Homo sapiens: one gene and its partners. The protein of the gene in region 3 purifies or fractionates together with the protein of the main gene of each other region. This does not show direct contact. Each region holds a gene or a part of one and is shown on either strand. Other genes may lie near its edges.

Region 1 (7,027 bases), on a different chromosome or scaffold from region 3:
TGTTCCTGAGTATTTCTTGATTGTTGTCACATTAATTAAATTGGCAATCTGAAATATCTAAAGGATAAAATATTTTCTAAATAGTTTGGGTGTTTAAATAGAAGCATCCATTGTTGAAATCTAAATGATAACAAATCTTCAATTGATTTATATAGTGGTGATTTAAAAATAGAATCATTTCTCATCTGTTGATGCCTAAGGGAAACATTGACATTGTGCCTTTATGATATTGAACAGATGAGTCATGTAATTTTCAGTTACTTAGACAAATACTGCTTCTTTGATGATATATAAATGCCTTTTTTAAAATACTTATTTACATGGAACATATCAAATTTCAGAGTCTTATTTCAAATTAAGTAGGCACGATAATTTTTCAATCTATGATTTCTAAAAATTGAAGTTTAAAGTTCTGCTCAAATAAGCCAGATATGAAAATATTATTTTTTTGATTAAGTAATAAGATAATAGTCTTACAATTCTGGTGACTGTAAATTTTGTTCAAAGAGTTTACCTTTATTTGAGATTTATTCATTATACAAAGATGATGCCATGTTATTTCAGCTTATTAAAGTCCCACTCTTTTACCTTGAGTGAAGTTTTTGAATTTGAAATTTTTCATATTATCATTAAAATGTAGTATATCACTATTTTCATCTCTACTAATTTTAAGATTCTATTTTGGTCTTGCTAATTTTAACTCCTGAGTATGAGAGGGTGGTGTGTGTGTGTGTGTGTGTGTGTGTGTGTGTGTGTGTGTGTATGTGTATGTGTATGTGTGTATGTGTGTTTAAAGTTCAATTCACTCAGAGAAGGCAAGGAAGAAACATGACAGGAGACCACTTACTCACGGTACAGAATCTAGTAGGGAGGCAATTTTCTTTTTGGCCTATGGTGACCTTTTTTGACTATGTTCCTTACACCAGAGACAGTGTACTGAATGCCTCTATTTCACCCTGTTTAGCAGAGTGCAACAGTGTTCTTTAACTTACTTTTGGTGGGAGGAGAAGTTATAGCTGAAATTTGAGAAGGGCGTGAAAAGTTGTAAGAGGCACAAGGAAGAGGGGTAGGAACTTCCTTCAAATGTGATTTTAATAACTAGTCAAGTGTGTCCAACTGTAGAAAATCACCAAGTGACAATCTGTCTACCTGACAGTGATCACAATGAATTACAAGACTTTTGAATAGCTATACAGATTAGAATAAAGCAGGACCAAATAAAATATCTTTTGTTGGTAAAACTTTTGACTTAGAGCTAAGAAACTTTAAAAAAAATTCTCTTTTGCTTTGATGTAGAAAGTTTAAATTACAGAATGTGTAAAGTGTTTTATAAGCTTTTTGTGAAAGAAGCATTATTCTAAAAGCTTTATTTGAACATCTGTTGAAGAATGGGTGGTGGTTTGTAAATCAGTTTGCTATATATTATTATATAGTTTCCATATATGTAAGATGACTGTATCTTAATTAATAGTCCTATCATTAAAATCAGAACTTCAGTGATCTTGAAAATTTCCAAACTAAATAATCGTTTTAGACAATAATATCATCTGATGGAGGAAAAAATAGAAAACAATTCCAAAGAAGTTTGTAAGTAGTTTGTGAAATCAACTGTTTAAAAAAACCAACCATGTGCAGTAATGCAGCATATTTTAAAATAAGATAATTGAGTCTGTGCTATTACTGGTTTACTATTACTGCTGTCAATTTTTTAAAATCATCTTATGGTTGGTTTGGCAAAAAATTTAAAATTTAAACTTCAAGTAGAAGATTCTACAGTTACTGTCTTGAAAAACTATATATACTACCTATTTTAAGTAAGGATGAGATTTTATAAGTTTTATTTTCTATTAAATAGATTTTCTAATAAATAGATTTTGTGAGCTATTTTCTGTAGCTCTTATGTTTTTATTATAATATCATACATCTTTTAAATATGACCTTATAGTATTTTACAAGGACATAATTGGAACCTCACAACACATAACTGAATAGAAAAGACAAGATATATAATAGCTTCAAAAATTTGTGTTACCCATGCTTGTCAATGGTTATTGTTTATCCCTCTCTATATTTTCTCATGGTTAGCTTATTCCATTAGACATAATATAAATATCAAACGTTTTCTTAATTATAACCACAGAAATGTTTGCCAGGCTAGAAAGAAATGAGACAGGAAAACATGTTTTACAAATTTAAAAAAAAAAAAGCCTTAATAGCTCAACAAGCTGTATTTTTTAACTTTGGAACCTTGCTTATTTCCTGATTATAGTTTTTAATAAAGAGAATTTTTATGGTAGGTTGAAAAATGAAAGAAATTTTAAGATTAAAGACTTGCTTCCATACATTATAGTAAGACAGTGGCTTATTTTGCTACATGATTTTTCTGGCCTCCTGTGAGAAACAAAGTGAATAAAATTCAAGGTACACAAGTAGATGTTATGTCTTTATAATAATGTAGGTATGGATGGTTTTGTAATGTTAAATCAGATTTATTCTTTTTTAACTGCTTATTCTTTTTAATTGTTCAGACAAATAAAAAATGCTCTTGAAAGGGCCATTGTAAAGAAAAATATACAAAAAAATGTAGTTTGAATTGTAAACTTTGATTTCAGAGGTTGTTTTCTCAAAACAGATAGTATAAATATTAATATAATTTGAAAGTTTACTTGAAAATAAATTATTTGCTAATTTATTTCAGTCATTTTTGGGTTCTGAGATATCTGAATTAGTTTTTTAATTTAAGCTTTATAATCTTTATGTTGCAATTATATTTTTTGTTCTTATAAATAATAAAAGCTTATTTATATACACAATAAAGGCAAACAATTTTAAATGACTTTCTTTTGAAAAAAATAAAATCATTATCTTGCCTAAAGGAGTATTTTAATGAATATGCAACTATATAAAAATTGCTTAGACTGAAATTTTAAGAACTTTTTTGAAAATTGAAATGGATTATAAGATTTAAATTATGCTACCTTCTTTCATTTCAAAACAGGAAGGATATGGAGTAATAGTACTAAATCCCAATGAAAACTATATTGAAGTAGAAAAGCCGAAGATACACGTACAGTCATCATCTGATAGTTCAGATGAACCAGCAGAAAAACGGGAAAGAAAAGATAAAGTTTCTAAAGAAACAAAGAAGCGACGTGATTTCTATGAGAAGTATCGTAACCCCCAAAGAGAAAAAGAAATGATGCAATTGTATATCAGAGTGAGTGAGATCACTACTTTCCTTTACTATTTTCTTTACCTTGTATATATTTTATTATATGTAGATTGTTTTGTTTTTCTTCAAGAATATTAATTTTTTTATTTGTCATCATTTATTTCCCATAGTCGTCTACTTGGATTAAATGGGTTTTTAAATTCAGAATTACAAAACGCATCATTCTTATTTCAGTGTGACATTTTATAGAAGTCACAAATGCAAATTCTGTTTCCTTTTGTGTCATATACTACCTCAAGAAAAATTTTCTAAAATAATTTTATTGTGATGGATGCAGAAGGCAGAAAACTTGCCAATTCAGTTTCCAAACACGCTGTTTCTTTAAGGAAACATAGCATCAGCATAACATGCCGTTATGTTGTCCATAAGAGAGAGTATATGTAGCCTCACAATTCTAAGACATATCACCTGCTGAATTAATAATGCTCCATACAAAACATTCATCTTGGGGGGTAAGGTTTACTGGATAATGCATTGTTTTACGATGAGCAACTATCTACAGTGTCTCAGCCTAATGTCTAAAGGCAGATAGAGGGAGGAAGAGTAATTAATATCTTAATAAATACTTAAGCCAAAATAGTGTAGGGATAGTGTAATGAGGGAACTCTGTCCTTTTCTCTTGTCCTACCCAGCGAACTTTTACACTTTGTAGTACTAACGGTATGGGATCATTAGAGCAGTGTTGCCCAAGGATTTCTAATTCTGTAGGGGGCACAAACAATTTTGTTTACACTTGGACATATTCAGAATGTTGACATGCATACTATAAATTATATATATGAGACATTTGTCAATTTTCAAAGCCCTTATTATGGATGCTAGAAGTTTAATAGTAAAGCATGTCGAAAATGCTACGGGTTAAGAAAAATAGTATATTGAAATAGTCCTCAAAAGTGAGCAATTCAGAACATTTAAACACAGAGAAAATAACGTTTTATAAATTATACAATAGGATAGTAGTAACATTTCAAATTATTCAACTTGAACTATTTTTACATTTACTTTAGAAGATCATTAATAAAATGTTTCATACTACCTTTTAGGGGAAATATATTGCTTTCTAAGTTTTTATTTTCTGTATTATTCTAGTTCATGGCATAATCACTCTACTTTTTGGAATTGTGCTTTAAACATTCAAAATATTTTATTTATAGGTCAGTCTATTGAGTAAGCTATGACAGTTAAGCAGTGGTGAAAACAGCATATATATTCCCAAGACCCCAAAAATGTATCCTGACAAGGAATTCTCAAAGCAGCTCATATAGTGAATCAAGCAGATTATAATATTTAAATTTTTAGAAAGCATCTCACTATTTAATATATTATTTGAAAAGCAAGAACGCTTATTATATTTAGAAGCAATAAGTAGCTTGTTTGTTCCAATGCGGTTATATCACCCCCTTTCTTTCATATGATTACATCGGGGTCATGATGTTACCATCTTCTCTATCAGTTGTACTAAGCTTCCTTCTATATGATCCAGTCTGTAAACCACCATCTTATGACAGGTTAAAATTTTTAAAAGATTACCTCTGATATCCAGATTCCAGAAATGAATTATATAAGGCTTTTGAAATATAAAATTATAAGGAATACCTACTTGTTTATGTAAAATGCAAACAAAATGATATTGTATATTAGGTTTATTTCTTCTTAAACAATTTTTTTTTGCCTGTGACATGTACAGATTAAGCATCTATCTCAGATATCAGACATCTGTCCCGTAAGTTTATTTCTTCCTATTTTGTCTTTATCTTGTCACCATTGCTTTGCTTTTTTTCTTTTGTTCTCTTTATGCATGCATTTTCTTTATTCTGTTTTTCACATCTGCTTTGTTTTTCCTCTCATCTATTTTTTCTTATACCAAGGAAACAACATTCTTTTTATGTTGCTTCATTGTTAAGACCTGCTCTCTTTCCTTTTGTTTTCTTTTTAATTATTTTCTCTCTTTTAGACTCCTGTCATTTTTCCCTCTTTTCTAAGTCTTTTTGCCTCTTTGTCCCATTTCACTCATCAATTCAAGTTCCCAACAAAAGCACCAAAAGACAAAAATAGGCCCAAACACATAATACAACTTTGTATCGATGGTCTTAGTTATGAAATGTTTTTTCTTAGTAAACATCATTTCTCTTAAAATCTTCTGGAATTTTGCAAAATAGCAGAGATGTGCTGACACTCTTCAAACATACTTCTAGATAGTAAGTTTTGGCCTTGTAGTGGGAAAGAGAAGAACGGTTCATTTTGTGTGAGGTGTATTAATTCCTTAGTAATTTTGATCCATTCTGGAAATGACTTCTGCTAGTGCTCTTCTTCTCTCTACTTATCTCCCAATACCAAGTGTTTGTAATTTTCAGACACAGAGCATTTTATATGATGGAACTAAACTAACTTTTATTTATATACTTCTTACCAATTTACAATTTGAAATTATCTTCTATTCTTTGTGACAGCCTAATAGGTAGATGAATCACATCATTTTGTCCTGATTTTATAGTTGGAAACTGATGCACAAATGTTAGTCTAGGATCACAAAGCTAGTAAATGGTAGATAATAAATCTACTTGTTGAAACCAGGACTAGTAATTACTGTAGATTCTTCCCCTCTTTCTTCTTTACCACATTGTTCTGTAGATTGAAAACAAAATATGTATCTGAAATTTGAAAATTAAGCCATGTGTAGTAAATGTATGATACAATATAGTAAACAACATTTGATGACAAAGATAGATTTTTGATCAGCTATTATTTAATGGACTCTGTTTCTTAAATGTTTATAAACAATTTATATGTATAAATGTAAGTATTTCTATAAATATGTATATATATTTATATATTCTCTACAAATAGTATGACTAATACTGATCCAAATTTACAGATCAGATTGTGGGTCAAAAATTTTTAGCTTTTGGAGGGTGGAAACTCAGTCTGAGGACCCTGCCCCAGGAGCAGGAGCTATCATATCCTCCCCTCTGCCACTTTCCATTGCAACTAATAAAGCCTGTTTGTACCATAAACACACACACACACACCCCTTTGAGTAATTTTTCAAAGGTCACATAGCTCTTAATATAAGCTTCATGAGGGCATGTACTTAGTCTGTTTTGCTCGCTACTGTATCCCAGAGCCTACAACAGAGCCTTCATAATAAATATTTGTAGAGCAGATCTTTCACAATAAATTTTAAATAAGGTGGTAGAGCCAGGATTAAAACCCCTCACTACAACTACCACTTTTTAAAATATGTCCTGCATTATTAAAGTATACAGCTTGATTTTCTATGAGGAAACATTCCAACAAACCAAAACAAAAAGTCAAACAGCACTACAATTGTTGACTTCCCACTCAATCCAGTAGCTGAGATTACAATCCAAAAATTAATGGTATAAGGTCATTATTTGATACCTTGAACTATATATTTTCATCTGAATATATAAAAGTAGAATATCCTATTTTCCTTTTGAGCTATGTCATTATACTGCTAAAATTATGGATGAAAATGGAAATGTTTCAACCTGACCCATTGCAATTTCTGTGTTACACATTTGCTCTTAAGAGTACAGCCAGGCTGCTGGGGTTACTCTACCCTGTACAAACTTTGTGCTTTATGGAATCTGTAACTTCAATTTCTGTTCTTTCCTGAATCCAAAATTCTATCCACTTACAACCCACGTTATAAGTGCCTAGCTGAAATGCCACCTCTTCCTCTCACTATAACCGATGACCCCTCCTTACTGAGACTCATGGAATGTATAATGATTAGCTAATTTACATGGAATTTACCAGGTACTGTCTTGA
Region 2 (7,027 bases), on a different chromosome or scaffold from region 3:
TGTGCAACCTCAAGCTTTGCAACACCAAGGAAATAGGTGTGCTATGTGAGCTTACTCTTAAATAATGGCTTTTAGTGAGTGTAGATAGTTCATGTGTAATGTACATCACATTATACCACCTAGGGTTTATTGTAAACTATATTGCTGCTAGATACATGTGAAAATATTTTCTTTCAATTTAGGTGTTTCCCATGATGAATTGCTTGACTTAGCAAAGTTTCATTTCGGTGACTCTTTATGCACACACAAAGGAGAAATACCAGCTCTGCCTCCCTGCAAATTCACAGGAAGTGAGGTAGGGCAAGCCTTCCAGCTAGTATTTAGCCTTTTGGATTCCTTGTGTTGTATTTACACATAAGTAAACAAAATGTGCATATTTCCAGTAGGAAAAGAATGGAATAATAGGAAAAGGGAAGAGGATGTACTCATTTGCTTACATTCCTTCCTCTTCCGTATTCTTTAACCACCTATTTTTCTTCCTAAGGAAGCAAGGTTTTTTTTGTTTTGTTTTTAAATTTCTCCATTCTAGTCTGAAAGGAAGCAAAGTTTTTAAGAGCAGTTTATAATTTGGTCTTTTTGTGCTTTTTCTTTGGCACTATGCCAATTTACATATTGTAATATCTGGAAGTAATCTTTTAAACCCCGTATTTTGACTTTCACTTCAGGTTTACTCTTGGCTCAGTTTTGCCCACAGTATGTTTTGGGAGGGGGTAGTAACTGTTAGAGCCAGAACTTGCAGGGGATCTACTAGTTATCAACTAGCTTTAAGCCCCACTAGCTGCTTAGTTTGCCATGTTGAGGATGATGCTCAAAGTAGTATCTGGAAAATGCCCTGATATTGGCAGCTGCCTAGAACTGTAGCATTGGCAGTACAAAAATAAACCTGTAACGTCAATATGACATTTCAATAGAAAAGTTCAGATTGAGGCCGGGTGCGGTGGCTTACGCCTGTAATCCCAGCACTTGGAGAGGCTGAGGCGAGTGTGTCACTTGAGGTTAGGAGTTTGAGACCAGCCTCACCAACATGGTGAAACTCCGTCTCTACTAAAAATACAAAAATTAGCTGGGCGTGGTGGTGCATGCCTGTAGTCCCAGCTACTCGGGAGGCTGAGGCAAAATTGCTTGAACATGGGAGGCCGAGGTTGCGGTGAGCCGAGATGGTGCCACTGCACTCCAGGCTGGGCGACAGAGTGAGACTCTGTCTCAAAAAAAAAGAAAGAAAAAGACAAATTCAGATTGACAAACACAAAGGATTGATTTCTACCAGTGAAATGATGCAACCCTTTTGACCAGGTAAACCATGTGGTGCCTGTCTGTAGTAAAATGCTTTGGGAAAAGTAATTTTTCCCTAATTTAGTCTTAATTCTTCTAGATTAAACTCAACAATGTAATGAGGCCTGATAGTTAAAAAATCAAAATAGAGTCCTGGTGTGCATTTTAACTTTGCAGTTAATGGGACTGGTGATTTTTTCCTTGTTAATAAGCATGTTATATAATGTTAATCTTAACTAGAGGTCCTCCTGCTTTATCTTAACTAGATTCGTGTGAGGGATGACAAGATGCCTTTGGCGCACCTTGCAATAGCTGTTGAAGCTGTTGGTTGGGCACATCCAGATACAATCTGTCTCATGGTTGCAAACACGCTGATTGGCAACTGGGATCGCTCTTTTGGGGGAGGAATGGTAAGTGATTTTAAAAGAAATTTTCCATAACAGATGGAAGATTATCATGTTTTCTTAAATATAAGTTCTTTGTAAGAATCCTTTTTTAAAGTGGCAGAATAGAGTCTTGTACTGTGAATTCTGACTTAAAAATATAAACTGATCCTGGATTGCATGTGGGCCAGAAAAAGTTTCTTTTTTTCTTTGCCACAAAGTTTATTAGTGGCAAAATTTGAATAAGGACAGAATTAGCTAGAAGTACTATGTCAATGTTAATATCCTAATTTTAATAGTCAGTAGGCCCTCTATATCTGTGGGTTCCATATCCGTGGATTCAACCAACCATAGGTGGAAAATTTTGGGGAACAAATGGATGGTTGCATCTGTACTAAACATGTATGGACTTTTTTTTTGGTCACTTCCTAAACAATATAGTATAACAACTATTTACATAGCATTTACATGGATTGGGTATTTATCTAGAGATGATTTAAAGTATACAGGAGAATGTGCTTATATGCAAATATTACATATACCATATTACATGAGGGCTCTAGCATCTGTGGATTTTGGTATCCACAGGGATCTGGGAACCAATTCTCCACAGATACTGAGGAACTATACCAAGGTGATGTAAGAACATTAATTTCCTTGTTTTTCACAAGTACATACTAAAGTATTTGGGGCAAGAAGCATCACATCTAAAACTCAGTTGAAAAAACTTGTATAAAGAGAATAAAGCAAACATGGTAAAATAACAGGGAATCTAGATAAATGAAATTCTCTGTACTGTTTTTGCAACTTTTTTGTAAGTTGGAATTATTTCAAAACACATTGTATAGATTTGTCTTTACTCATAGATTTCTCCAAAATACATTTCATCTAAATAATCTTAAGCTTCATATGCAATATAACTTTGAATCTTTAAGCGTATGTAGCCAAGAGTCCTAGAAATTGGGTTGATAATAGCCATCTAGTTTTAGAAGTAGGTATAGCTACTACATTAATTATAAGGACTCATTGCTTTTATAACATGAATTTCTCCAGGGGGTGCACTGGGTAAGTGAGATAATAAACACAATTCTTAGTCATACTGAATTTTAACTCTACTACTGAGATGTTGAATAAAACTAGGAAACAGCCTCTAAGGATATTCACTATTTTCCACACACTCCATTTTTCTTTCTGTATTTTGGACATGTATAATTAAAATTCTCTTGGAATTTTTTTTTCCTTGCAGAATTTATCTAGCAAGCTGGCCCAGCTCACTTGTCATGGCAATCTTTGCCATAGCTTTCAGTCTTTCAACACTTCCTACACAGATACAGGATTATGGGGACTGTATATGGTTTGTGAATCATCCACTGTTGCAGACATGCTACATGTTGTTCAAAAAGAATGGTGAGAAAAATAGCTTTAAGTAATTTAAATTTTGCCTTTAATTCGTTTTAAACTAGTTTTTTATTTATACTTTATGGTGATTTATGGTAATTTTACCTTTTAATTAAGAGACCTAGATAAACAGTAGTTGCCATGTTTTCAAAGGTTGCAGTTGGTTTTTCCTAAGTCTCAAGATGTGAAGCTGATTTATACTATAGAATTTTTTTTTTTTTTTTTTTTTGAGATGAGGTCTTGCTCTGTTGCCCAGGCTGGAGTGTAGTTGTGCCATCTCGGCTCACTGCAGCCTCCGCCTCCCAGGTTCAAGCCATTCTCCCACCTCAGCCTCCCGAATAGCTGGGATTACAGGCGCACCACCATGCCCACGATGCCTGGCTAATTTTTTGTATTTTTTAGTAGAGATGGGGTTTCACCATGTTGACCAGGCTAGTCCTGAACTCCTGACCTCAGGAGATCCACCCTTCTCAGCCTCCCAAAGTGCTGGGATTACAGGCGTGAGCCACCACACCTGGCTGAAAGTTTTAATCTTTCAGAAGCAGGTTAATTCAGAAAGATGATCCTAAAAGTTTAAAAGCCAACTAGAAGTTGTTTGGAAAATATCTCTGAAAGTAATCTGGTTGAAGGGAAAGTAAATCTGAAGTTGCCACTGCTAAAAGAAAACAAAGTATATTGAGTCGATAGATGGGCAGAAAGGCTCGCAGCTTCTTGGAAAACATTTAGCTCTGGTTCCTTTCCTCCACTATTCTTAATTGGTTTACATCTTTCTAAATCTAGTCAACTAGGATGTAATTATTGTTAAAAATTAGATTTAAGTTAGACTCTACTCATTGTTTTCAGAAACCAATGAATGACCCACTGACTTAACCCATAGCATATCAGACTCCAACAGATGAGGACTCATGAAGTCTCAAGATGCTTATAGCATTTCTGAAAATGTGATCAGCCCATTTGTATAAAGCCTTTGTCTGCTAATGTGTAATTAGGCATGTTTATGTATCATTTTTGAGAAATTAATACTGGGGAAAATAATCATTTTAGCTTTTGCTTAGCATTGGAATTAAATTGTAATCACCTGTATGTTTTGTGTAGAAGATGGCATCATCATTCTTAGGTCATTAACTCATGAAATACAACATTTTCCAACTACTACTGTTTTTCCACGTTTTTTAGGATGCGACTCTGTACAAGTGTCACAGAAAGTGAGGTTGCACGAGCCAGAAATCTTCTGAAAACAAACATGTTGTTGCAGCTTGATGGTAAAAATAAAGATATAGGTTCTGTTTTCATATGGTTGATCTGTATTCCAATAGTTAATTTTTCCTTCTCTTTAAACAGGTTCAACTCCAATTTGTGAAGATATTGGTAGGCAAATGTTATGCTATAATAGAAGGATTCCCATCCCTGAGCTTGAAGCAAGAATTGATGTAAGTAGTCCTGAGTTACTATTGGGTCATGTGTAAAAAGATCCTTGTTACAAAAGCTGAGAATATGTATCTTTCATCTTGCTTTAGTTTTAAAAAGTTCCAGGTATAGACTTTGTTTTTACTACAAACAGCTGAATGACAGTGTCTTCCATATTTCAGGCTGTGAATGCTGAGACAATTCGAGAAGTATGTACCAAATACATTTATAATAGGAGTCCAGCTATTGCTGCTGTTGGTAAGCCTGGCTTCTTTTCTTCTATGCAAAAAGTTGGCCAAGTACTTTTAATTAACTCTTCTTTTTAATCCTTAGGTCCCATTAAGCAACTACCAGATTTTAAACAGATACGCAGTAACATGTGTTGGCTTCGTGATTAAAATGCTCCTAATCAAGATTGTTTGAACACATGTATTTATAAAACAGAGCTAGAGAAAAATAAAAATGAACATGTATATACATTTGGAAATTTGAATTAAATACTGTATCATACTTTCAAAGGATAAAAAGACTACCCCTCTGAAGGTTGTTTTGTATTAATGGTCAGTCTTTGTTCTCTGAGAAATTATGTTGGAAGCAGCATACTTTCAAATTATTACCATGAGTATAATTTTAAGAATGAAAATGTTTACAGTATTTTCAGTTTTATTATAAAAATGCACACACAACAAAGATTGTCATTTCTTGGCTCTACTTGCATTCAGCACTTGTTCTTGAGCAGCTTTCTTTGCTTTTACCATCTCGACAAGTTCCTAGGAAGGGAGAAAGGTGTGATTTAAGAAGTTGCGATTTAAAAACAGACATTTTAATCTAGTGTTTGGTGTAAAGAATTCAAGCAACTAAGATAGATAGTACTAAATATACTGATTTCATTATCTGCCAGGGCCTAGAAAGTTTCTAAGGTTGCTCATTTCTTCCTCATAATATTGACCCCATAACTACTGGTTTTGAAATAAGCACTATATTATTAACCACTTAATAGACATAAAATATGAGCTATATCACCCAAGCTACAATTTAAAATACAACAATCTATAAACGCTTAAGTCTGCAACCTTGTATCGTTTCATGCAGTCCTTCTTTGTCCTGCCAGGCACCGCTTCTGCTATTTTTTCCCATCTTTCAGGTGTATTTACTGGGTATGTTTTCAAAGCTTGTTCCAAAAGCTTCTGTTCTTCTGTTGTCCAAGGGGTGAAGTCTGTATATGGACCTGATTAAGAAAAATTTTTATTTGAAAACTGTCTTTGAACATGTTCTCAGACAAGTCTTGTGGTCCACAAGTATTCGCTAAGTGCCCATTTCAATCTGGGATGTGTCATTTTGAAAATAAACTTGTAGAGATGAGAGATACATATAGCCCTCTGAGTGTTAATAAGAGAAAAAATTTCAGATAGCTCACATCCCAGAAAATAAAATCTCAAAGGCTTTTAAAACACAATAGTAAAGATCTACCTTGTACTGTTTATCTCTTAAAAATCAATGTAATACACTCACCAGACTGGTAAAAAGCCATATTTAAATTTATAGTACTGTTGGACTCTTGGACTCAAAAACACAACCACAATTCATTAAGAGTTCTGATAAATCTACTTCCTTACAGAATAGGTAAAAGAGCTTCCTCACAGTTAAACTTTTGCTGGATAGAAACCCTGGAAATCATTCTTGTTTTACACTGAAGGAAACAAACCTAGCAAAATTAAGCCAAGTGCCCAAGGTACCAGTGCTGGAGAGGCAAGCTGAGATTAGATTGTGTTGTAGTGTGGTGTTCTCTTCGTCACATCTGCTAAAATCTTGGGAGCCGATGCTGAACACTTCCAATAACTGCTATTGTGGTTCTTCAACTAAACCTTGTATATTTCAGAAAACATCTAAGATGTGTGTCAGAAACAAATATGTTTCTTAAGGATGTTAAGTATTACACAGTCCACTTGTGTAGGTAAAAGTAGAATGTTAAGTGGTAGAAAGCTGATTTGGTTAAGTTAATGGACTTCTGGCAATTTAGTTATTTCAGACTATGCAGTGACAACACAGACTAATACTACCAGTAGCCTGACTACTACTAGAAACTGCGGCCTGTGAGATCTGTTAAAAGTTAAGCCTAGAAACCAAAGTTCCTTCCCAATTAAAGAAGGAAAAACAAAACAAAACAAAACAAAACCACCACCTATTCAAAACAAAGCAGAGAATTTGTATAATATTTGATGGTACCTAAGGTGCCTAAGAAGCTTTTTTGAAGGTAGCTTTTAAGTTCTAGGAAGTCTTTTGTTGAATTTCCTTGTATTGGTTTAAAGCCCTAAATACCATAGATTTTATTTCCTCTCTTGGAAAAAAGATGGAAGTGACATGGCAGTATTTCCTGCTGTTCTCCAGTTACTTCACAATACCAAAATAAATTAAACGTACTGTTGCAAAACTCCTATGAGAAATCACTATTCAAAAAATGGTGCCAGCTTGCTGTTTAATGGTACAACTGAAGAGGAAGGAGCCTTCCCATTTCCATAAAAGAGGCAAAGGAGTCATACCCACATAGCACTACTGCCAGTCACTCT
Region 3 (6,978 bases):
CCCGGGTGTCATTTCCTCCATTAGACTGTCATTCATCACAGGTGGGTCAGTAGCCTCATCCCTGGGCTGTCAAAGGCTTGTGCACTTTCTGCCACCACAGCCCCCATCAGTCTCCTTAGTCAGCGCCCACCCACAAAGGCCACACTTTGGTCAATTGTGAGTGATGAAGCCAGGACTCTGGCCAGTCTCACTGCAATATTTATGTGAAAGTAGATGCTGCATTCTGCTTGTATGTGGTTTCTCCTGGGCACATGGCACAGGACCTGGCCTCCTTATCATCTCGCCCGGGCTCCCATGCCTTCCGAGCTGGCTACCACGCCTCACTCCTCAAGAGCGCCCAGGAGTGAGCTCTGCTCTCCAGCATCACCCTGTTGATGGACGTGAGCGGAACAGGGTGATGCCCTGGACACTGGGACTAAAATGACCTTCTTCTAGCACCCTCACAGGATGCTTGAAATCCTGAAAATGTAACCTTAAAAAGCAAAGTGTTTCTTCTCAAAAGAAGACATGTATGCAGCCAAGAGACACATGAAAAAATGCTCATCATCCCTGGCCATCAGAGGAATGCAAATCAAAACCACAATGAGATACCATCTCCCACCAGTTAGAATGGCGATCATTAAAAAGTCAGGAAACAGCAGGTGCTGGAGAGGATGTGAGGAAATAGGAACACTTTTACACTGTTGGTGGGACTGTAAACTAGTTCAACCATTGTGGAAGTCGGTGTGGCGATTCCTCAGGGATCTAGAACTAGAAATGCCATTTGACCCAGCCATCCCATTACTGGGTATATACCCAAAGGACTATAAATCATGCTGCTATAAAGACACATGCACACGTATGTTACTGCAGCACTTTCACAATTGCAAAGACTTGGAACCAACCCAAATGTCCATCAATGATAGACTGGATTAAGAAAAATGTGACACATATACACCATGGACTACTATGCAGCCATGAAAAAGGATGAGCTCATGTCCTTTGCAGCAACATGGATGAAGCTGGAAACCACCATTCTGAGCAAACTATCACAAGGACAAAAAACCAAACACCGCATGTTCTCACTCATAGGTGTGAATTGAACAATGAGAACACATGGACATAGGGTGGGTAACATCACACACCGGGGCCTGTTGTGGGGTAGGGGGAGGGGAGACAGATAGCATTAGGAGAAATACCTAATGTAAATGATGAGCTAATGGGTGCAGCAAACCAACACAGCACATGTATAAATATGTAACAAACCTGTACGTTGTGCACATGTACCCTAGAACTTCAAGTATAATAAAAAAATAAATAAAATAAATAAAAAATAAAAATAAAATTTAGAAAAAAAGTTTTCCAGGTTCAGAGCAGAAAACATCAGTCCTGAAAATCAGGATTCCAGGGTTTAGATTCCTTTCACTCCCAGGATCTACAGACACCATCGGACCTCACATGGTGCCCGGCAGCATTCTGAGATTTTTTACTTTATTATCTTGTAAACCCCCAAAATTTGAGACAGGTCTCATTTAATTTAAAAAGTTTATTTTGCCAAGGTTGAGGATGTACCTCTGACATAGCCTCAGGAAATCCTAACAACATGTGCTCCAGGTGGTCAAGGCACAGCTTGCTTTTATACATTTTAGGGAGACATGAGACATCAATCAATGTATAAGAAGTACAATAGTTCTGTCCAGAAAGGCAGAGACAGCTCAAAGCAAGGCCCCCACCACTGGGGGCTTCCAGGTCACAGGTATGTGAGAGACAGACAGTTGCATTCTTTTTATTGTATTTTTGAGACGGAGTGCGGTTTTGTCACCCAGGTTGAAGTGCAGTGGTGCGATCTCGGCTCACTACAACCAATGTGTCCTGGTTTCAAGCAATTCTCCGGCCTCCGCCTTTTGAGTAGGTGGGATTACAGGTGTGTGCCACCACACCCAGCTAATTTTTGTATTTTTAGTAAGGACGGGGCTTCACCATGTTGGCCAGGCTGGTCTCGAACTCCTAACCTCAGGCGATCTGCCCGCCTCGGCCTCCCAGAGTGTTAGGATTACAGACGTGAGCCACTGCGCCCTGACCGGTTGCATTCTTTTGAATTTATTATAAGTCTTTCCAAAAAAGTTAATCGAAATACGCATGTATCTCTGGGAGCAAAAAGATGACTTGAATAGAAAAAGAGGCAGATTCGCAATAAGCAGTTCCCAGCTTGAAGGTGCCTGAGATATTTTTCTTTCACAATCTTATTGAACCCACACCTGGTGTAATAACCTGGAAGCCTCCCCAGGAGGCGGTCAGCACAGAGGCTAGGGAATGAGGCTTTCCAGGCCATTACACCAGTTTTCCATTTACCAGCAGGGTGACCTTGGGCAATTTGTTTCAATTCTCTGAACCCCAGTGTTTTTCTTCTCTAACATGAGGATTATATTGCCTGGTCAAAGAATCATAGTGTGGCTTCAATAAGACAGAAGGAAAGGGACAGAAACAGATCCGATAGAATACTGTAGCTAGCTCATTGAGGCAGTTCACAGACGGTGTTTGGGAGGAACTTGGAAGAGGCTGAGCCATGTCTTACCCAGCACCAGCAAGGAAAGCTGTGTTTCGGTTCTTTCTTTTCTCTTTCCACAATCTCACTGCTCCTAGGTCAGGCATGGCTCAGCCTCTTCCAAGTTTTCTCCCAAACACCCTTTGTGAACTGCCTCAATGAGCTAGCTACAGGATCCCACTGCATCTTTCTGTCTCCTTCTTTCTGTCTCTCTGAATCTATTTCTCTCTATCTCTCTCTCTCTCTCTATTTCCATCTCTCTCTGTCTGTTTCTATCTCTCTGTTTCTCTGTGTCTCTCTACTGTCTCTCTGCATGTCTCTGTCTCTTCCTCTGTCTCTGTTTTTGTTTGTCCATCTTTCTGGATCTCTCTCTGTCTTTCTCTGGCAGGGTTGAAGTGGGAGTATACGGCAGGTTCATGTTTGGGTGCAGAATGGCATTCTGCCAGCGGTAGAGTGGCTGAGGGTCACTCCACTCTGGGTGTCTCATGCCATGTGGCTGCAGTATGGGGTTCTCATTGGACCACCGTGACAGTGTAGGGTGGATGTCATTCCTGGAAACTGAGCCTCAAGCTGGGTTCTCCAGCAATGCCACCACCCCCCACCAACCCTGATATCCTCCGAATAAACTCTTCCCTTCCTTGGTCAGCGAGAGCCAGCGTCTGCTGCTTGCAAATAAGCCACTGAGACATCAGGAAAGCTGCTCACAGAATTACAATGAAAATCAGTAATAAATAAAATGTTTCTTAAATCTTTAGAATCAAGGAAAACCTGAGGGATACTTGGAGAGTCGCTAACAGCACCCCAATCTGGCAGTTGTAGCTCTGCAGGGTGGGCCCAGGCTGGCCCAGACCCTCACCCTCCAAGGGCCACACTGGGGGCTCACTTTCTGAGGAGTGCCCTTTGGAAACGTCCCAGGAACACGTCTAGTGGGAAAAGAGAAAAGTTGGTCCATCGAGGAGAGTGTTCTGCATAAGGGGAGAGATGAGAAGGTAGCCTTGGCCAGAGGAAGAAACTTCATTACAACCAGCTCTCCTTCTGCAAGGGAAGAGGGTGAAGTTTGAGTTTGTCTTGCAGGAAGACAATCAAACTAAAGAGGCCAACACCAGCTTAGAGCCGAGCGGCCCCCTGCTCAGAGCTTCCCTGTGGCTCTCCTCCATGTGATCCAGAAGGAGGGACTCCAGTGTGAACTGCCTGTTCCAGAAACCCCATCAGAACTGCCTAACCTAGAAAACCAAACAGGAGGAGCTGGCACCAGGGCTCCAGGCTGAAAGCTAAATCCAGCGGCAGCCAGATGGAGACAATGTGCCATGTGACTGCTGACTGCTCAGGGCAAATGACACCAGGGGTTAGCGATTAGAAGTTCACCCTTGACTGTGGCACCTCCCTTCAGTTCCGTCGACGAGGTTGTGCAATCCACCAGTCTTATAAATACAGTGACGCTCCAGCCTCTGGAAGCCTCTGTCAGCTCAGCCTCCAAAGGAGCCAGCGTCTCCCCAGTTCCTGAAATCCTGGGTGTTGCCTGCCAGTCGCCATGAGAACTTCCTACCTTCTGCTGTTTACTCTCTGCTTACTTTTGTCTGAGATGGCCTCAGGTAAGCTCTGGTACCTGCAAGAGTTTCCCATCCCCAGGGCTGGGGACAATGGGGCTGATGTGAGTCTCGGATGGCTGCCTCCGTGTCCCAAGGGACGAGGAACAAGCAGCAGGAAAGCATCCCGTGGTTGAGTGGCCTGCAGTTGGCAGAAGGCAGCAGGCAAGCCCTGCCAAGCCTTCAGGGTCTGTGAGCCGCCAAGGAGTGAGCCTGGCAGGGTCATGGCGCTTGTCACAGGCAGCTGCCTGCATCCTTGTCCTGGACATGTAGACAGTATCCTATGTGGATGAGATTGCTGCTTCCCCTGCAAGACGACTCCTCACACTGAGAGGCCAGCTTCCTATGCAGAGAGAGGGGCCGGCCCCATCCTCAGCCCACGTCACTGGGTGCAGCCTCCTGGGGTGCCCTGGTACAGGTGAGGTGCTGCCGCCCCACCCATCAGGCCAGCTCAGCCGGTGCCTTGGACTCACCTCCTGTGCAGGCAGGCGGTCCTCTCCCTCTCCTGAGAAATGCATCCACATTCTCCAGGTTAGCAGTCTCCCCAGTCAATAGGAGGGGGCTTCCTGTGAGCCAGGTGTATGTCAGCTTCTCTGGGCCAAAGCAGCCATGACCCTGACATGATGGTGGGACGTGCAGGAGGAATCGGGAACATGTTTTATCCCAGCCCTATCCTTGTTCACACGAGTCACATGGTGCTAAGCCTTGGTTTATTCATCTGCAGAATGAGGGGCTGGGAAGGATGATCCTGAAAGCAAGCACTCCAGTTCAGAAAGTCTCTGTAAGATCCTATTGTAAGTTTCTCTAGGCCATCACTGTATCCAGCAGATAGGCTTAATTTATTCCAATTATGCCTCAGTTTTTCCATCTGAAAGCTGAGTACAAAAGCATTCTAAATGCAGAACTTTTCATGCTGCCAGTTGCTACAATGGATTTTGTTTTTTTGTTTTTTTTTTTGGTTTTTGGTTTTTGGTTTTTGTTTTTGCTTTGCTTTTTTTTTGAGACAGGGTCTCACTCTGTCACCCAGGCTAAAGTGCAGTGGTGTGATCTCGCCTCACTGCAGCCTCTGCCTCCTGAGCTCAGGCCATCCTCCCACCTCAGCCTCCCAAGAAACTGTGACTACAGGCATGCACCACCACACCTGGCTAATTTTTTTATTTTTATTTTTTCGTAGAGATAAGGTCTTACTGTGTTGACCAGGCTGGTCTCAAACTCCTGGGCACAAGCAACCCTCCTAGTTCAGACTCCCAAAGTTCTGGGATTATAGGCATGAGCCACTCCACTCAGCCTACCGTGTTTTTTTGTTTTGTTTTGTTTTGTTTTTTTGAGATGGAGTCTTGCTCTGTCACCCAGGCTGGAGTGCAATGGCACAATCTCAGCTCACTGCAACCTCCACCTCCTGGGTTCAAGCAATTCTCCTGCCTCAGCCTCCTGAGTTAGCTGGGATTACAGGTGCATGCCACCAAGCCTGGCTAATTTTTGTATTTTTTAGTACAGACGGGGTTTCACCATGCTGGTCATGCTGGTCTTTAACTCCTGACCTCATGGTCCGCCTGCCTCCGCCTCCCAAAGTGCTGGGATTACAGCCATGAGCCACCACGCCCAGCCCATGTTTTTTTAAAGGAATAGAAAATATTACTTCATGCCATGTAGTAAAAGTAGATGCTATTTAATTACACCCATATTTCAGTTTGGGGTGTGTGCATATGTTTTTACTGAGTAGCAGTGAGAAATTTCTTTCTGATGGTGGTTCAGTCCAAACTCAAAAGGGTTTGAAAGGCACTTTGTTAACATAAAGAATTTTTGTTTTCAGTCTATTATATCTAAATTGAATTATGAGAAGCTATTCTCGAGCCTTCCCAGTCACAACTCCCTCCTACCCCCAAGAATAATCACTCACTTGACTTTTATGGTGGTAACTTTTCATATTCTTTACACTTTTGCCACACTAATTAATATTCAGGTTGAATAGTACAGCTTGGTTTGTGCACACATTTCTATTGGCCAGTAGGTGCCCTTATGCCTCTATTTCTACATGCTGAAAAGTTGCATCACCGGATCATAGGCTATGCATATATTCAATTGTATTGGACAATGCCAAACTGTTTTCCAAGATTATTTACACCAACTTGCACTCCCACAAGCAGTGAATAAGAGTTCCTCTTGCTCTGTATCCTTGCCAACATTTGATAACATCAATTATTTTTAAATTTTAACCACCTGGTGAGTGTAGCAATAGCTCACTGGAGTTTTAATCTGCATTTCCCTGATAAATAATAAGTTGGGCCCTTTTATACATAGTTACAGGCAACTGGGTTATTTTTTGTAAAATACCTGTTTGTCTTTTGTCCATGTTTTCTTTTGGATTATCTGTCTTTTCTTATTGGTTTGTAGTTCTTTATGTATTTTCTATGCAAGCCTTTTGTCAATTATATACATCACAAATATCTTCTCTTGCTTTGTGTTTTGATTTTTCACTCTCTTAATGGAAACTTTCCTAGAAAAGAGGCTTTTATCATGATTTCAATGTAGTCGAATGTGTCATGTCTTTTTCCGTAAGGTTACTGCACTTTCTATCTTGTTTAAGAAGACTTTCTTTACATCAAAGACATGAAGATAGTCCCCAATATTGTCTTCTAAAAGCTTATCCTTTTTCTTTTTACATTTAGACTTACAATCCATCTGGCAATGGGGTGTGTGTGTGTGTGTGTGTGTGTGTGTGTGTGTGTGTGTGTGTGGCTTCGGTATGAAGTAACGGTCAAGTTACTTTTTTTCCCCAATATGAATATCTGATTGTCCAGAACCAACTTTTTTTTTTTTTGAGACTGAGTCTCGCTCTGTCACCCAGGCTGTAGTGCAGTGGCACAA
Region 4 (7,027 bases), on a different chromosome or scaffold from region 3:
GCGCCTGCCTCCACACCCAGCTATTTTTTTGTATCTTTAGTAGAGACGAGGTTTCATCATGTTGGCCAGGCTGGTCTCGAACTCCTGACCTTGTGATCCACCCACCTCAGCCTCCCAAAGTGCTGGAATTACAGGTGTGAGCCACCACACTGACTGGTTTTGTTGATTTGAACTATAAAGTTAGTATTTAAAATCATGTACTGTGTAAAGTGGAGTGAGTTTTAGAATTATACAAGATAAGAATCTTGCCCTAGAGGGAGCCTGTAGTCTAGTTGGAGAGACAAGATCTTGACCCATAACTCTCAGCCTAGCTAATTCTGTAACCTTTAGAAATGTTTAGTGTCTTTGGCTCTCCATTTTCTTGCTTGAAAAATGGAGATAATAACAATTTATCTTAGGATTCTTGTGAGAATTAAATGAGATAATGTTTCTGAAGGGTTTAGAGCCCAGCCTTCATTTATATTGCCTTATTTTTTTCTGTTCTTATTAGTCTAGAGATGTATGATTGATTCACGTAGTAGCAGTATCTCACAGTAGCAGTAATTCTCAGAAAGCATATGTTACGTGTCCTGAGAGTAGTGTGGAATGTGTCGTGAGGATCAGAGGTGGGAAAGAGTGGTCTGGGGCTGTTAACCTTGGAGGAAGGTTTTGTGGAAGACTGTAGACCTGAACTGAGCTTTGAAGGTTGATCATACTTTCAGATATGCATGGGAAAGACAGAGACTGAAAGTTCTTAGGGAATATAGTCAGCAAAGATAAGAATATAGAAGCTCGTGTTGTGTTGTAGTTAATCGATAAACATATGGACAGATGTAGGAGCAAAGATGTATTCTCATATGCCACTAGAGAAGATGGTTATAGTGAATGAAAACTGTGAAATGTCCATAGCTGAGGGCAGTAAAAACTAAATATTTATTCCCTTATTCATTTATAATTATAAATATTTATTTGTGAAATACTTATGGATGTGAACTATTATCATTAGGCAATATCTCAAGGTATACAGTATTCCCTTATGGTAAGGTTTGTTGTTATTGGATTTGAATCTATATTTAATTTAATTTATTTATTTTTAAAGTTTTTTGTAGAGATAGGCTCTCCCTGTGTTGCCCAGGCTGGTCTCAAACTCCTGGGCTCAAGTGATCCTCGTGCTTTGGCCTCCCAAAGTTCTGGGATTGCAGGTGTGAGCCACCTTGCCTGGCCTAAATCTATATTTTAAATAATCTTTTAGTAATTTCTTATATTTTGGCTGACTTGTAAGGTCTGATTTGGTTGTCATAATTTCTACCGTAGATGTTGCTAAGAATAAAAGAAATGTCATCTCTGCCATTTTATGATTGGCTTTTGCTAATATTGGTTTGAGGGAATATTGCCAATTTTTATTTAATCAAAACTGAATCTGTAAATCCACTTAACTGGGCACATAAAAGCTGCTTCCGTATCTTTATATACTGAAATTAATAAATGAGGACTGTTGTCAACCCTTCCTCATTGCAAATCTTCTACATTTCCCTCAGAGTACTTTTCTACCTCTCACACCAGGCAGTGATGTCAGTGTCAGTTTGCATATTGAATATTAGTAAAGCTTAATTTCTTTTTTTTGGAGACTGAATCCTAGAGCAGTGTTCCTCAGAGTGTGGTTTTTGGGTCACCTATGTCAGAATTACTTTGAGGTGCTGGTTAAAATAAAAATTAGGCTGGGTGCAGTGGCTCATGCCTGTAATCCCAGCACTTTGGGAGGCCGAGACGGGCAGATCACATGAAGTCAGGAGTTTGAGGCCAGCCTGGCCAACATGGCAAAACCCCATCTCTACTAAAATACAAAAACAATTAGCTGGGCTTGGTGGCAGGCGCCTGTAATCCCAGCTACTTGGGAGGCTAAGGCAGGAGAATCATTTGAACCTGGGAGGCGGAGGTTGTGGTGAGCTGAGATCACACCACTGCACTCCAGCCTGGGCAACAGAGTGAGACTCCATCTCAAAAATAAAATAAAAATTTCTGGGCCCTTCTCATACCCTATCTAGGTGACTGAAGTTGACACTTGGTAGCTAGTATAGAGCTTGGTGACATTGTGGGGTTTAGTGTATATATAGCATAAAAGAGAGTCCTAGGAACTCTCGTTATAGAAAATAAATCTTTTTTCTTTTTTAAGGTAAGAGATTTGAGAGTGTTTATATCTGGAAGGGAAAGTATCTTCTCTTAAAACCTCTTCCTATTAGAGAACAATCACTGGTTTGAAAATTAGATAGTGAATTTGAGTTTTTTATTTCAAAATTTGTTTTGCAATTTTTTATTAGGTGGAAATTAAAGGTGGAGCACATGATTATTACAATGTTCTTCCCAATAAGAGCCTATGGAAAGCCTATATGGAAAATGGAAGAAAGCTAGGAATAGAGTTCATTTCAGAAGATACAATGTTGAATGGCCCTTCAGGTAATTAAGTGTTTTTTTATATATTGAGCTATTTGAGGAAGAGAAATACCATCTTTGGTTAAATTGGTTGTATTTAATGGTTTGGGAGGTCGGGAGGTACTACTGACGTTTTTAATATTTTCACAAACTTTATGGTTAGGGGAAAGAAACTAATGGACTCTTAAGTGAGTGTAGAATGTCAAACGAGCAGACTTGATTTTAGAAATAGTCAACCTACATTTTTGTCTGTATTCTAAATATTTTCTAGTGTTTAAGTTTCGTTAGTTTTAATTTTTAAGTAAGTTGCTAAGGTGGGATATAGAATTTTAATTCATTCTCAGTCATCACAATAAGCAGGTTACTAAGTACTTAGTTATCTGGGGCATTTTCAGTTTCTGAGGAGCAACAGACAGCTAGAATTGAAATAAGCATATTTGGGGTTATGTTAGTTTTTTTTTCCTTTTAAAAGCATATTATTACTAATACATTTGCAAGTTAGAGATGTATCATCTGTTTTAAAAATAGATGTTGTTGAAGTAGGCCCAAAAGGACTTGGTGGTGAAAATGGGGTGTCGGTGTCATTCATTAAGATAAGGAGTTCAAGAGAAAGAGCAGGTTAGGGTAAGAGGGGGTTGTTATAAATTATTAGTATGTTAAACTTGAGGTGCTTATAGTATTTCTAAGTGGAGCTGTTCAGTACCTGTTAAATCTAGAACCCAAAAAGATGTCTAGTTTGGAGATTTAGGAGTTGTCCATATATGAAAGGTATATAGAAGACATAGATGTCGATGAGGTTGCCCAAATACATAGAGGAAGAAGATTCCCAGAGATCAGACATTGGCAGTCAACGAAGTGGTCAGAGAGAAAGCCAGACAATCAGGAGAGAGGAGAAGTCATGGAAGCCAAGGGAGAAGAAAACTTACAGAAGAGAAGGAGGCATAAATCATGTCAAGTGCTGTAGAGACTGAATAAGATGAATATGGTCTAGTGTCCACTGGACTCTAGTAATTAGAAATTCATGAATTGTCTGGAAGAAAATAGTATAAGACCAGTGGTACCAGATGCTGGGTCTCACTTCTCTACCCAGGGCATTGACTGCTGAGATAGTGGAAGTAGCAAATGAAGACTATTCTTTTTCAAGAGAGTTAGCTTTCAAGGAAAATAGAAAGAGTGGATACAAGCTTGAGGGAAATACGGAAAAGAAAATAGTTTTTAAGGGAAGATACTTGAGAAGTAGATGTAATGTTTAGGAAGGAGGTCAGGGAGTTCAGAGACTTTCCCTCTAGGAAGTAGCACACAGTGAGCATTGAGCTGGTAGGGCTGAGGGATTGAGAGAGAATTGCCACTGAGAGGAGTTGTCCAGGGACATCAGAGTTTCATGTTTTCTTTTGTTCTGGACAGCAAGAAAGCTCAGCTCAGCATGGTTCTGTTCTTTTACCCTAGCAGGTTTCTGCTGTCTAGCTGAAGAAGGGAAGACACATGGCCTGCTCTACCCCGGGTTTGGGTTTTATATAATGGACAAAACAGTAGGATAAAGTGGCTGTGATTTTGGTATGATTTGTGGGCTCTAGGGTCTAGTTCCACAAGTAAGATCTTAAAATATGCAACAGGTTTTTTTTTGTCCATCCTTTTTTGTTTTGTTTTGTTTTTACACTCAGACTCTTTAGACTCTTTAAACACTGGAGAGGCTTTTTCCATCCTGTTCACTGATGTCCCATTACTGTGCATCCTCAGTGTGTGGAGCCGTTTCTGGCACAGTTAAGTGCTTAGTGAATATTTTCTGAAGCAGTACTTCTATAGAGGCTACTATGCCTCAAAGTCTGGCCTCAGTCTGCATTTACCACATAACTAGCAGCTGTGAGACTATCGGCATGTTATTTAATACCCATAAGCCTTGGTTTCTTCATGTTTAAAATGGAAACTGTTCTAAATATTAATGAGAATACATACAAAGCACTTAGGATTGTGTTTGGAACGTAGTATTCCAGATAAATGTTAGCTACTCTTTGTCACATATTCCTTTATTCTCTTACCAATCACTGTGTAGTCTCACTTTGCCTGCATGGTGTTTGACATGTAATAAACATTCAGTAAATATCCATTGAGTGAACATAAGGCTTTGTTTTTACTGTGATTTATTCAACAAGTGCCTGTGTGTCAATCCTGTGAGAAGCTAGATGCACAGTCATTTCAAATACTATTTCTTGCCTCATACAGCCTCATAATTTAGTTTCTGACATAAGCATGAACCAAATCATCCAATACATGGAAAATTAAAAAGTACTGTAAAGGAGAGTAATACATCTCTGTGAGAGCTTATGCTAGAGGAATTTCACTTTATGGGAAGGTGAAGTAAGTAAGGCTTTGCTGAGGAAATGATGCTTAAGATGGAATTTGAAGGTTAAGTAAGAGTTACAGAGATGATGCAGGGATAGCATGTGCAAGGGTCCTGTGACAGGGAGAGCATGGTGAGTGTCTAGAGCGGCTAGGGCATCGAGAGTAGTGGGAACATGGTATGAGATCAGGTTGGAAAGGTGAATGAAGATTGAAAAAAAAAAGACGGCAAATAGAGTAGATGCTGCTAGACCAATTAGGAAACTTCTAGTTCAGGCAAGAGATAATGATAGCATAGGCTGAGGACAGGTGTTGGTGATGGTGATGCAAAGAGCGTTAGGATTCTGAGATATTTGGCAGGTACTGTTGATAGGTGGAGTGGAGGTAGAAGAGAAAGATCATGAGTTTGACTTTAGATATGTTAAGTTTGATCTACCTTGAAGACATCCAAGAGAAGATACCAGGCTGGCAACTGGATGTATGAGCATGGAACTTAGCAGAGACTGGGAAGAGATTTGAGTTGGTGGTGATTTGAAGCAATACATACGGACAAAATCTTGAGAAAGAATATGCAGTAAGAAGAGAAAGGGGCCTGGAATGGAGTCTCCCGTAACTATTATTTCATCGTCAGGTAGAGGGGGCTCTATCCCCAAGAGAGACAGAAGAAGGGGCCATCAGAGAGGCAGAAGGGAAGCCATGCAAGTGCTGTGTCACAGAAGAGAAGAAAGGGAGTAGGTGGCAGTGTGGAGTGCTGGCCAAGAGGGCCAGTAAAAGCCGTGAGACAAGGTGAGGGCAGGTTTGCAGTGACCTTCATGAGAGATGTGACTGATACAGGGGAGTGGGTGGCAGACTCAGTGGAAGGTGAGCCCATGAAAGCATGAGCATACGGACAACTCTCCAAGAAGCTCACTTCTCTGCGTCTCTTCTAACAGGGACTGTGACTTCATAACTCCAGAATACTTAACCACATATACTTAAATAGACTTTTCTTAACTTTGTGTGTTCCAAGGATCTACGGATTTTGGAAATGTTAGTTTTGTGGTTCCTGGAATTCATCCATATTTTCACATTGGATCTAATGCCTTGAATCATACTGAACAGTACACTGAAGCTGCTGGTAAGTGTTGTTGGATGTGACTGTTTTGGCACACACACTCTTCTTCTGGTAGTAGCTGCCTTTCTGTTTAACCTACTATTTCACTACATAACATCACCTCAGTAAATACTGCACTGTGGTGGGCAGTTGGAGAGCCAGTTGAGATACGGGTAGCTAACCTGTGAAATTAAATACAGCTTAAATAAGTAAGGAGGTATTTTATTTTCTCTACCTTTTAGGGTCACAGGAAGCTCAGTTCTACACTCTGCGGACGGCCAAAGCTCTGGCAATGACGGCACTGGATGTTATTTTTAAACCAGAGTTACTGGAAGGAATCAGAGAGGACTTTAAACTGAAACTTCAAGAAGAACAGTTTGTAAATGCAGTAGAATAAAAGACTTAGGGGCCACTTATAAATCAAGAAGACGTGATGATTTTTTTCTTTTAATCTCTTTTAATGAAGGCATGCTTGTTTTTTAATCTTAAAGGAGTAAAATTCTTTTTACCTGATAAGTGAGGACAGGGTGTGGAGAAAACATATTAATTACCTCATATCTAAAGTGAAAATTTTTGCAAATCCGTACTTGATAGGATTATGATATTACAGGAGCTGGTATGTGATGCCATTCTTTCTTTTTTTTTACCCCGCAACCACTCACCTTCACAGTAGTGATACCATTTCTTAACCTGGAGGATACATGGCATCATTTTTATAAAATATGTTAGTAAACCTTTTTGTAAGCCTTAAATGTTATGTGTATTTTTAAAAGCTTAAGAGATTTCAAACCTTATATTCAGAATTGACACCCATGAGAGTGTTTTGTGGTATAGGGTGGTAAACTTGTTCTCTAATCGTATATTAATTCCTCTACCAGATTGTATATTTGAAGCCAGTGTCTTTCCTTTTTTTGTTTTAAGATAGAGCCTCGCTCTGTTGCCCAGGCTGAAGTGTAGTGGCACAATCTCGGCTCACTGCAACCTCTGCCTCCCAGGTTCAAGTGATTCTCCTGCCTCAGCCTACCAAGTAGCTGGGATTACAGGTGTGTGGCACCATGCCCAGCTAATTTTTGTATTTTTAGTAGAGACGGCATTTCACCATGTTGGCCAGGCTGGTCTCGAACTCCTGACCTCAGGTGATGCACCTGCCTCGGCCTCCTAAAGTGCTGGGATTACAGGCATGAGCCA

Evidence for each region.
Region 1: the proteins of DEFB1 (region 3) and ARB2A purify together in Homo sapiens (affinity purification with mass spectrometry; 2 studies listed by BioGRID and IntAct, with this or other methods). This does not show direct contact.
Region 2: the proteins of DEFB1 (region 3) and PMPCB purify together in Homo sapiens (affinity purification with mass spectrometry; 2 studies listed by BioGRID and IntAct, with this or other methods). This does not show direct contact.
Region 4: the proteins of DEFB1 (region 3) and PM20D2 purify together in Homo sapiens (affinity purification with mass spectrometry; 2 studies listed by BioGRID and IntAct, with this or other methods). This does not show direct contact.

What each region holds. Positions count from the first base shown.
Region 1 is NC_000005.10:93,877,660-93,884,686, reverse strand, and holds part of ARB2A (cotranscriptional regulator ARB2A isoform 1 precursor), read left to right. Parts: intron 1-2,998; coding exon 2,999-3,217; intron 3,218-7,027. UniProt on the Homo sapiens protein: Plays a role in the regulation of alternative splicing, by interacting with AGO2 and CHD7. Seems to be required for stabilizing protein-protein interactions at the chromatin-spliceosome interface. May have hydrolase activity.
Region 2 is NC_000007.14:103,307,414-103,314,440, forward strand, and holds part of PMPCB (mitochondrial-processing peptidase subunit beta isoform 1 precursor), read left to right. Parts: intron 1-182; coding exon 183-295; intron 296-1,538; coding exon 1,539-1,682; intron 1,683-2,901; coding exon 2,902-3,062; intron 3,063-4,229; coding exon 4,230-4,315; intron 4,316-4,394; coding exon 4,395-4,483; intron 4,484-4,642; coding exon 4,643-4,718; coding exon of another isoform or gene 4,719-4,786; exon of another isoform or gene 4,787-4,793; coding exon 4,794-4,858; 3' UTR 4,859-5,155; coding exon of another isoform or gene 5,156-5,230; 3' UTR 5,231-5,533; coding exon of another isoform or gene 5,534-5,688; 3' UTR 5,689-7,027. Other genes in the region: DNAJC2 (dnaJ homolog subfamily C member 2), read right to left, coding at 5,156-5,230, 5,534-5,688. UniProt on the Homo sapiens protein: Catalytic subunit of the essential mitochondrial processing protease (MPP), which cleaves the mitochondrial sequence off newly imported precursors proteins. Preferentially, cleaves after an arginine at position P2.
Region 3 is NC_000008.11:6,874,935-6,881,912, reverse strand, and holds the start of DEFB1 (beta-defensin 1 preproprotein), read left to right. Parts: upstream 1-3,976; 5' UTR 3,977-4,055; coding exon 4,056-4,116; intron 4,117-6,978. UniProt on the Homo sapiens protein: Has bactericidal activity. May act as a ligand for C-C chemokine receptor CCR6. Positively regulates the sperm motility and bactericidal activity in a CCR6-dependent manner.
Region 4 is NC_000006.12:89,156,028-89,163,054, forward strand, and holds part of PM20D2 (xaa-Arg dipeptidase), read left to right. Parts: intron 1-2,297; coding exon 2,298-2,433; intron 2,434-5,377; coding exon of another isoform or gene 5,378-5,481; exon of another isoform or gene 5,482-5,743; intron 5,744-5,755; coding exon 5,756-5,863; intron 5,864-6,081; coding exon 6,082-6,236; 3' UTR 6,237-7,027. UniProt on the Homo sapiens protein: Catalyzes the peptide bond hydrolysis in dipeptides having basic amino acids lysine, ornithine or arginine at C-terminus. Postulated to function in a metabolite repair mechanism by eliminating alternate dipeptide by-products formed during carnosine synthesis.